Homo sapiens: one gene and its partner. The protein of the gene in region 1 purifies or fractionates together with the protein of each later gene. This does not show direct contact. Each region holds a gene or a part of one and is shown on either strand. Other genes may lie near its edges.

Region 1 (5,590 bases):
TAGAGATTTTATAATTCCAGCCCTATGCTTAGCTGTTGTACATGTTTTATTTTATTTGTGTTTTCTAACATTTCCGTTTCTTTTCAAGGATCAGTGGTCAATTGGTCAGGACAGGGACTACAGAAATTAGGTCCAAATTTACCCTGTGAAGCTGATATTCACACTTTGATTCTGGATAAAAATCAGATTATTAAATTGGAAAATCTGGAGAAATGCAAACGATTAATACAGGTAGGTATTGCAATCTGGGAAATGGTTACATAGGATCAATTTATTATTAAACAAAACAATAAAATAACCTGACAAAAAGTAACTGTGCAGCCCTAGCAAGCAGTCATTGTTGCCTTAAATTTTTACATGACAGTTTCTTCTGAAGATGAACATACATGTACTACATTGAGAGTAGATTAGAAAAAAAAAGCATTGTTAAGAAAAGGAAGCATTTTATTTTGCAAAATACTGTGTTACTAAGGTAACCTTTTACCTCATGATGGGGGTAAAGAGTTCATTCATTCCTTCATTCAAGAAATGGTTACTGCGTCCCTCTTATATGTCTGGCACTGTATTAAGTTTTGACTGAGAGTTTAACAGCACTATTCTTGTGGAACTTACATTCTCAAGTTGTTGCTGTGTTAAAAATGTCTTAGTAGTTAGAGGAGGTCTGATCGCTCAGCTTTATCTGTATTTTCTATTGCCCAGGAACAATAACAAAAAACTGATAGTCATACTGTAGAATATTTAGACAATATATGTGAAATGTACAAAAGGAGTTTGTTTGAGAGTGTTTGGCTGTCTAAATAAACCTTTTAAATCACTTTAATGTGAAATATTTTATATATGTTATTCCTAAAAATAACAATATGTTTCCTTTTTACAGTTATCAGTAGCTAATAATCGGCTGGTTCGGATGATGGGTGTGGCCAAGCTGACGTTGCTTCGTGTATTAAATTTGCCTCATAATAGCATTGGCTGTGTGGAAGGGCTAAAGGAACTAGTACATCTGGAATGGCTGAATTTGGCAGGAAATAATCTTAAGGTGAATGGTTTCTTTTTTGTTTACAAAACTATTCTGCGTAAAAAAAATTCAAGCAATGTAGAAATAAGTCAAATTAAAAAGTGAAAGTACCCACTCCCACTCTCCAGGGATAATCTCTGTTAAAATAAACTAAAAATAAATCTCATTTTGAAACATATAATATGACATAATATTCTTTTAAATTTGAACAAAGAATCTATATTGTACTTAGAAAAAAGTAGATCAAACCATAGAGTGTTTAGGAGGGAGACTATATCATGCTGAATTAAGCTTTAAGTAAATGTTTAATGCTATAAGGGAGAATATACAGTTTTAAAAGTTAGGAGATCTGAATTCTAGTCCTACTTGCACTACTTAGTAACTGTGTAATTTTGGGTAAATTAATACATATTTCTGCGTCTTATTTTTTGGCATGCTAGCTGAGAGGACTAGATTACCAATAGCTGCCTTTTATTGAGCCATTAATGTATCTGAGCTACTGTTCTAAACATTTATCTGTATTAACTTATTCAATCTCATGGTAGCCTGCGAAGTAGATATAGACATTATGCGTGTTATAAAGGTGAAGGAACTAAAGCACAGAAAAGTAACTTGCTCAAGGTCACACAGCTAGGAAGTTGCAGGGCCAGAATGTAAATCCAGGCTGTTTGGTTTTAATCTAAACTTGTAAACTCTATTCTATACCACCAACTGTCATATATTATTACTATGGTTTCTTTTGTTTTTTTTTTTTTTTTGATGGAGTTTTGCTCTTATTGTCCAGGCTGGAGTGCAGTGGCACGATCTTGGCTCACTGCAACCTCTGCCTCCTGGGTTTAAGCAATTCTCCTGCCTCAGCCTCAAGAGTAACTGGGATTACAGGCGCCTGCCCACCATGCCTGGCTAATTTTTAGTATTTTTTTAGTAGAGACAGGGTTTCGCCATGTTGGCCAGGCTGGTCTCGAACTCCTGACCTCAGGCTGTCCACCCACCTCGGCCTCCCAAAGTGCTGGGATTACAGGTGTGAGCCATAGCGCCTGGCCATTACTATGTTTTTTTTCAAGCTGTAAAGATCTTGGATGGTATGAACTACTTGGTAGCCCTCTACTCATAGAGAGATAATGAAAGTGTACGTTTACAACCTGACAATCTACTAAATTCTGTTAGTACTGCCCCTTTTCTCTTGCTAAGTTCTTCTACTCTGCTTCTAATAATAAGAGGAGGGAAGACACTCTTTCAGCTGCAAAGAACTAGGGAATAATTTTATTTTTTGATTTTGTTTTCATTAAATAGTGTGATGCTTTTCTTGTGATAGGCCATGGAACAGATCAATAGCTGCACAGCTCTACAGCATCTCGATTTATCAGACAATAATATATCCCAGATAGGTGATCTATCTAAATTGGTATCCCTGAAAGTAAGTATGTTTTCTTTGTCATTTGTGAAGTTTTATAGCAAAATACCAAGAGAAAGTAATCTTACTGACCTAAAATTAGCCTGCTTTGTATGAGCAGATTGCTTTCTTTATGATAAGAATTATGGGCTGGGCATGGTGGGTCATGCCTGTAATCCCAGCACTTTGAGAGGCTGAGGCGAGTGGATGGCTTGAGCTCAGAAGTTCAAGACTAGCCTGGGCAACATGGCAAAGCCCCATCTCTACTAAAAATACCAAAAATTAGTGGGGCATAGTGGTGCGAGCCTGTAGTCCCAGCTACTCAGCTAAAGCAGGATTGGTTGAACCCAGGAGGTGGAGGTTGTGGTGACCCGAGATTGGGTCACTGCACTCTAGCCTGGGCAATAGAGTGAGACTCAGTCTCAAAAAAAAAAAAAGGAATTATGTTAGAATACCAGAAATTAAGTTTGAAACTTTTTGTTGTTAGTTATATAACTCATTTATTTGATGTGAAACTGGTCATTGTAGTTAAGGTTAATTTTATTTACCATTCTCTGAACATGATGGAATTCCCTGTATGCCCAATCAACCAATATTAGTAACTTCAGTTATTATATAGTACATAATCTTTGGTGAGGTTGAGATTAATCATTCCTGAATTTGAGTCTGTCTTTATTTTTTTTTGAGACAGAGTCTTGCTCTGTCACCCAGGCTAGAGTGTAGTAGTACAATCTCACTCGACCTCCCAGGCTCAAGTGATCCTCTCACCTTAGCCTCCCAAGTAGCTAGGACCATAGGCATGTGTACATCACCACACCCAGCTAATTTTTTGAGTGTTTGTAGAGATGAGATCTTTTTCTTTTCTTTTTTTTTTTTAGATAGAGTTCTGCTCTGTCACCCAAGCAGTGGTGCAATCTTGGCTCACTGCAACCCAAGCAGTGGTTGCAGTGGTGCAATCTTGGCTCACTGCAACCTCTGCCTCCTGTGTTCAAGTGATACTTCTGCCTCAGCGTCCCGCGTAGCTGGGATTATAGGCGCCCACCACCACACCTGGCTAATTTTTTGTATTTTTAGTAGAGACAGGATTTCACCACGTTGGCCAGGCTGATTTTGAACTCCTGACCTCACATGATCCTCCTGCCTTGGCCTCGCAAAGTGTTGGGATTACAAGCGTGAGCCACTGCACCTGGCCAGAGATGAGATCTTACTATGTTGTCTAGACTGGTCTCAAACTCCTGGACTCTAGCAGTCCTCCTGCCTCAGTCTCTCAAAGTGCTAGGATTACAGGCATGAGCCACCGAACTGGCCGAGTCTGTTTTTTTGTTTTGTTTTGTTTTGTTTTGTTTTGTTTTGTTTTGTTTTGTTTTGTTGAGACGGAGTTTTGCTCTGTTGCCCAGGCTGGAGTGCAGTGGCGCAATCTCGGCTCACTGCAACCTCTGCCTCCCAGGTTCAAGCGATTCTCCTGCCTCAGCCTCCTGAGTAGCTGGGACTACAGGTGCATGCCACCACGCCCAGCTAATTTTTGTATTTTTAGTAGAGATGGCATTTCATCATGTTGGCCAGGCTGGTCTCGAACTCCTGACCTTGTGATCCACCCGCCTCGGCCTCCCAAAGTGTTGGGATTACAGGCATGAGCCACTGCGCTGGGTCCCAAGTCTGGATTTTTTTTTTTTTTTTTGACATTCAGAATTGCTGTTTTTAAAGTAATAGGTATTAGCTAATTGTCAAAATTAATTTCACTTAGAAAAAAACATGTAGCATGTAGCACTTTTTATGGAGGGGAATGTATCATGCAGTCAAATAAGTAACAGTTGAAATCACAGTCTTGAAAAACATGTAGAACATTTTAAATATTGTTGCCTCATTGGATATTATTACCATCAGATATGTTCATTAAGCCCTAGAAGCAGTATCTTAGTTCACTTTTTCCCAGATCTTTAGCAGAAATCATTTTTAGCAATAATTATTCTAAACATTTTGATGTAGCCAGATGTTGTCCTAATAGATGCTAAGAGAATTCAAATGAACCAAAGATGATTGAATTTTTTTTTTTTTTTTTGCTGGAATAGAAGCCTATTTATCTGATCAGAATCCTGGGTGTTCAGTTTTGGGTTTATTCTTGGTTGTTGCTGACTTAATGTGAGTCAGCTTTATCTGCAAGTAACACATTCTACCTCCCTTTATTTTTTAGTTACCTAGAGAATACAGTTGCAATTATGGATGTAGGTTATCACTCTCTTTTTTGGAAAATTTGCTTTATATGTGGTTGTTTTAATGACTTTTTTTTTTTTTTTTTTTTAATTTGAGACATCAGAGTCTTGCTGTCACCCAGGCTCGAGTGCAGTGGTGCAGTCATGGCTTACTATAGCCTCGACCTCCTGGGCTCAAGTGATCCCCCTACCTCAGCCTCCCCAGTAGCTGGAAATACAGGTGCACCTCATCATGCCTGGCTAATTTTTTGATTTTTAGTAGAGACCAGGTCTCACTATGTTGCCCAGGCCGGTCTCAAACTCCTGGGCTCAAGCAATCTTCCCTCCTTGGCCTCCCAAAATGCTGGGATTACAGGCATGAGCCACCACACATGGCCTCTATTTTGATATTTTAAAAGAAAATGAAAAAGTGTGTTAGAAATTGCTCAGTGTCTCATAAGTTAAATCTCACAGCATGCCTAGTTGCTATGCCAAGCATGTGTTTTTGGACAAGTCTTTAAAATATCATGAGCTTAGGATGTTGGTATGAAAACAGAGAGTTGGACCAGAAGATCATCAAGGACCCTTGTAGCATTAACAGTCTTTGATTTGTGTGTGATGAGAAATATAATAAAGTAGATTCCTTTATTCTTATATGTACCATTTTGGTGTTGTCACAATAGGCCAATTTATTTGTAATCTTTTCATTTGTAATTCATACTGTTTTTACTTTCAAGACCCTGCTTTTACATGGAAACATCATCACCTCTCTTAGAATGGCACCTGCTTACCTACCCAGAAGTCTTGCTATACTTTCTTTGGCAGAAAATGAAATCCGAGACTTAAATGAGGTAAAATTTGAGGGTATTTTGTGAGATTCAGGAAGCTGGAAATCCTAGGAAAGACACAGGAGAGGGTTGTGAGCTTACTTTTAGACTGTGAGCATCTTGGAAGAAACTGCCATTCATATGAAATGCTTGGCTCTAGATCTTT
Region 2 (3,377 bases), on another chromosome or scaffold:
CGCCCGGCTGCGTGCGGTCCAGCGGAAGGCCCGCTTTGCCAAGCTCAAGGTCTGTGTCTTCAAGGAGGAGATGCCCATCACCCCCTATGAGTGTCCGCTCCTCAACTCCCTGCGATTTGAGCGGAGTGAGAGTGACGGGCAGCTTTTTGAGCACCACTGTGAAGTGGATGTGTCTTTTGGGCCCTGGGAGGCTGTGGCTGATGTTTATGACCTGCTGCACTGCCTGGTCACGGACCTCTCGGCCCAGGGTCTCACCGTGGACCACCAGTGCATCGGGGTGTGTGACAAGCACCTCGTGAACCACTACTACTGCAAGCGCCCCATCTATGAGTTCAAGATCACATGGTGGTGAGTAGCCCCGGTAGGCGAGAGTCCCATCAGGGAGGATGTCCACCTTGCTTGGTGGCTCTGGGAGTAAGATCCCTGAAGGGGCTGCTGACTGCCCCAGAATCTGCCGAGGTGAGAACAGCATCCTGAGGCACAGCTCCCAGGGGACAGAGGTGTAGCTCCAATCTCCCTGACTGCACCTCAGGGTTGGGCTCAGGGCTTGCGGCCTGCAGGCACTCCAGCCAGCGCTCACCTGGCCTTTCCTCAAGGCATGGTAGTCTTTCCTTGAGGCTGATAGCTAGGGCTTGACCAGGAAGTCCCGAGAAGTTTTGTCACCTTCTTGACCTTGCAAGAGAGTTTCTGCCCATTTTAGAGCCACGTTACCAAATCGATGTAGGCCTAATCACTTCCTCAACCCTGTTCAAGCGTCCCTCCCTTGTGCTCAGTATATTGGTGTGAACACGGAACATGATGGGGGATTTACCTGACCAGCCACCCCATAGCCCCTGGCTGAAGAAGAAAGAGCATCTTCTCTCCCACTGCACCCCTTCTCCTCCAAGAATAGTTGCCCACATTCCCAAAATGTGGAAAGACTTTTCTTTTCCTTCCGGAACATGTTCTTCACCACCTTTTGGAGATTTAACCATAGCTGCCAAAGCTATGCACCCAGTTGGCCTTAGAAAACCACAATGTTTACAGCCCTGTCTTAGGGCCGCGGCTTCTCTTATCTTCCACCACCTTCCTTGCTTGCAGGGTTATCTTCTCACAGGGCTGGAATGCAAATTTCAGAGGCTTCTTTTGAAGATTCCCCAAGTCAAGCAGGCAAGATGCCTAGATCTTCTGTTATCTTTGACATGTAACATCCTTTTTAGAGGCTCAGAACACCTCCTTGGCTGCTATCTCATGTGTTAGAATCCAGTTTGTGGTGAACCTCTTTGGAAGGGGACCCCCTCTCTTTAAACCCTGTTCCTCTGTCCTGGTAACATTCTCCTTCTAGGAGAGCCTCTCTTCTGAGAAGGTAAAGGAAGGGCTGGGTGAGACACACAGCTATCCTAGGAGCCGTAGGAAGACAAAACTTCCCTTTTGTTTTACTCCTCACTCCTCTATTTTTGTTTTACTCACTTCTTTATATTTTGTTTTACTCCTCACTCCTGTATATTTTGGTTTACTTACTCCTCTATTTCAGAAATTGAAAAAGATCCCCAAGGATCTGTTACTACTGCATTTCCTTCTTGCTCTGTCTACAGCCTAGGCCAACTAGTCAGGGTCTGGACATGCATCTCCTAAAGGAAGAACTGTGTAGCACCATTGATCACAATGTAACATTTCCATGCTGCATTAAGGGTGTCTCTCTCTAATCATGATTGTACCTGTCTCTTCCTGGGTAAAGGGAGATTTTTTTTTTTAATGTGTAAAGAATTGATGCGAGCCAGGAACATGTCTGTAGTCCCAGCTACTTGGGCACACGCCTGTAGTCCAGGCCACTCGAGCACACACCTGTAGTACCAGCTACTCTGGAGGCTGAGGCAGGAGGATCACTTGAGCCCAGGAGATTAAGACTGTAGTATACTATGATCGTGCCTGTGGCTAGCCACTGTGCTCCAGCCTGGGCAACACCATCGTAAAAATAAATAAATAAATAAATAAATTGGGGAGGACAGCCTCACTGGTATCAGACTTACAGGACCAGATAGACAAGATGGGTATAAGGGGAGCTGAAGTCTGTGTTCATATGAGGAAGAGAAGACCAAGCCCTGGGACTTTGGCTGAATTCCTCCGTGGGGCTGGACGGCAGTGATCTCCTGTTCCCTATGTGTAAACAAAGATTCCAGGGCGTGGTTTTGCACTCCTGTTGTACTCTTTTAGAGGTGGAAAAGAGGTGGATACTGAGATCTAAGAGGAAAGGATAGTCATTCACGTTCTGAGATATGCGCTCTCTCTATTGTTCTCGTACACAAAGGGATAGTCTCTTTTCTGGAGCTGATGTCCCTGCTTGGAGGTTAGCCCCAAAACATGGCTCTTGTATTGTTCTAAGAGAAAAGGCTTTCATTTTGGTTCTTCTGATTGGTGTTACCTACTGCCTAATATGTGTTCATTTTTTGACAGAGAGGCAGACTATTGAAAAAGTCTGTGTGAACAGAGAGCAGTTCATTAAGCCCATTGCTTTCAGTAATGTGGCCTTGACCCCTTCTGCTTCCCCCTTCTCCCATGGAGCATGGCAGGGCTTGGTTATTTAGAGTCCATACATGCAAGCCATTGAGAGACTTGTTTGCTCAAATGCAAGTTTGCTCAAAAACAGGTCCTGAAGGCTTGCTTAGGATTACAGGGATGCTGGGTAAGAACACCGTTCCTCTCTCTCGCTGGAGAAATCCCTGTTTCTCTGACTCCCTTTGTGATCCTCACAGTAATGTATTCTGTGCCACTGTAGGACACAAGGCTCTGGGCCAGTAGAACAGGCAGAGAGGTGACACTGGGCAGCAAGCTGAGAGCTCTTTCTAAATGGAGTGAAGGAATTCAGTGGCCTAGTTTCGCCATTCTCTAATGAGAAACCAAGGCCAGGCTGAAAAGTGCAATTAGATGTGGTGGATTGTGGTAACGGCCTCCAGATAAAGGGGTTATCCCTGTGGAAGTGACTTTTCCCCATTTGATCCCTTTTCAACTCTAAATGGCCAGGCCCAGAACAGAAGAAGGGTTGGGTCTGGAAGGAAGGCTCCAAAGGATGAAAGCTTCTCCCTGATCATAAGGAAGTGCATCTTTATAGAATTGTTGTGCATAATGTCAGTAAATCCCTCTCACTTGACAAGGGACTGGATTCATCTTGCCTTGAGACGGGCCAGTAGTTATCAGTGAGTCAAAGCAAAGTGAAAGTTTCAGGAGATGGGACCAATGGTGCAATGCTCGCCATAACAAAATTCCTTAAAAATAAAAAAGCTAATGTTATAGCAACAAAAAAAGACTGAAGCAAAACCACACTGAAATGCATCCCACTCCAGGAGAGGAATTCTTAGCGTAACACTCTAAATAAATGGAAGGAATCATCACCTTCCTTA

Evidence for each region. Proteins that work in one complex are often made in the same cells at the same time.
Region 2: the proteins of CEP97 (region 1) and KCTD7 purify together in Homo sapiens (affinity purification with western blotting, with the first as the bait; one study listed by BioGRID). This does not show direct contact.

What each region holds. Positions count from the first base shown.
Region 1 is NC_000003.12:101,726,506-101,732,095, forward strand, and holds part of CEP97 (centrosomal protein of 97 kDa), read left to right. Parts: intron 1-88; coding exon 89-231; intron 232-877; coding exon 878-1,036; intron 1,037-2,308; exon of another isoform or gene 2,309-2,330; coding exon 2,331-2,432; intron 2,433-5,334; coding exon 5,335-5,448; intron 5,449-5,590. UniProt on the Homo sapiens protein: Acts as a key negative regulator of ciliogenesis in collaboration with CCP110 by capping the mother centriole thereby preventing cilia formation. Required for recruitment of CCP110 to the centrosome.
Region 2 is NC_000007.14:66,638,881-66,642,257, forward strand, and holds part of KCTD7 (BTB/POZ domain-containing protein KCTD7), read left to right. Parts: coding exon 1-352; 3' UTR 353-1,513; coding exon of another isoform or gene 1,514-1,514; 3' UTR 1,515-3,377. UniProt on the Homo sapiens protein: May be involved in the control of excitability of cortical neurons.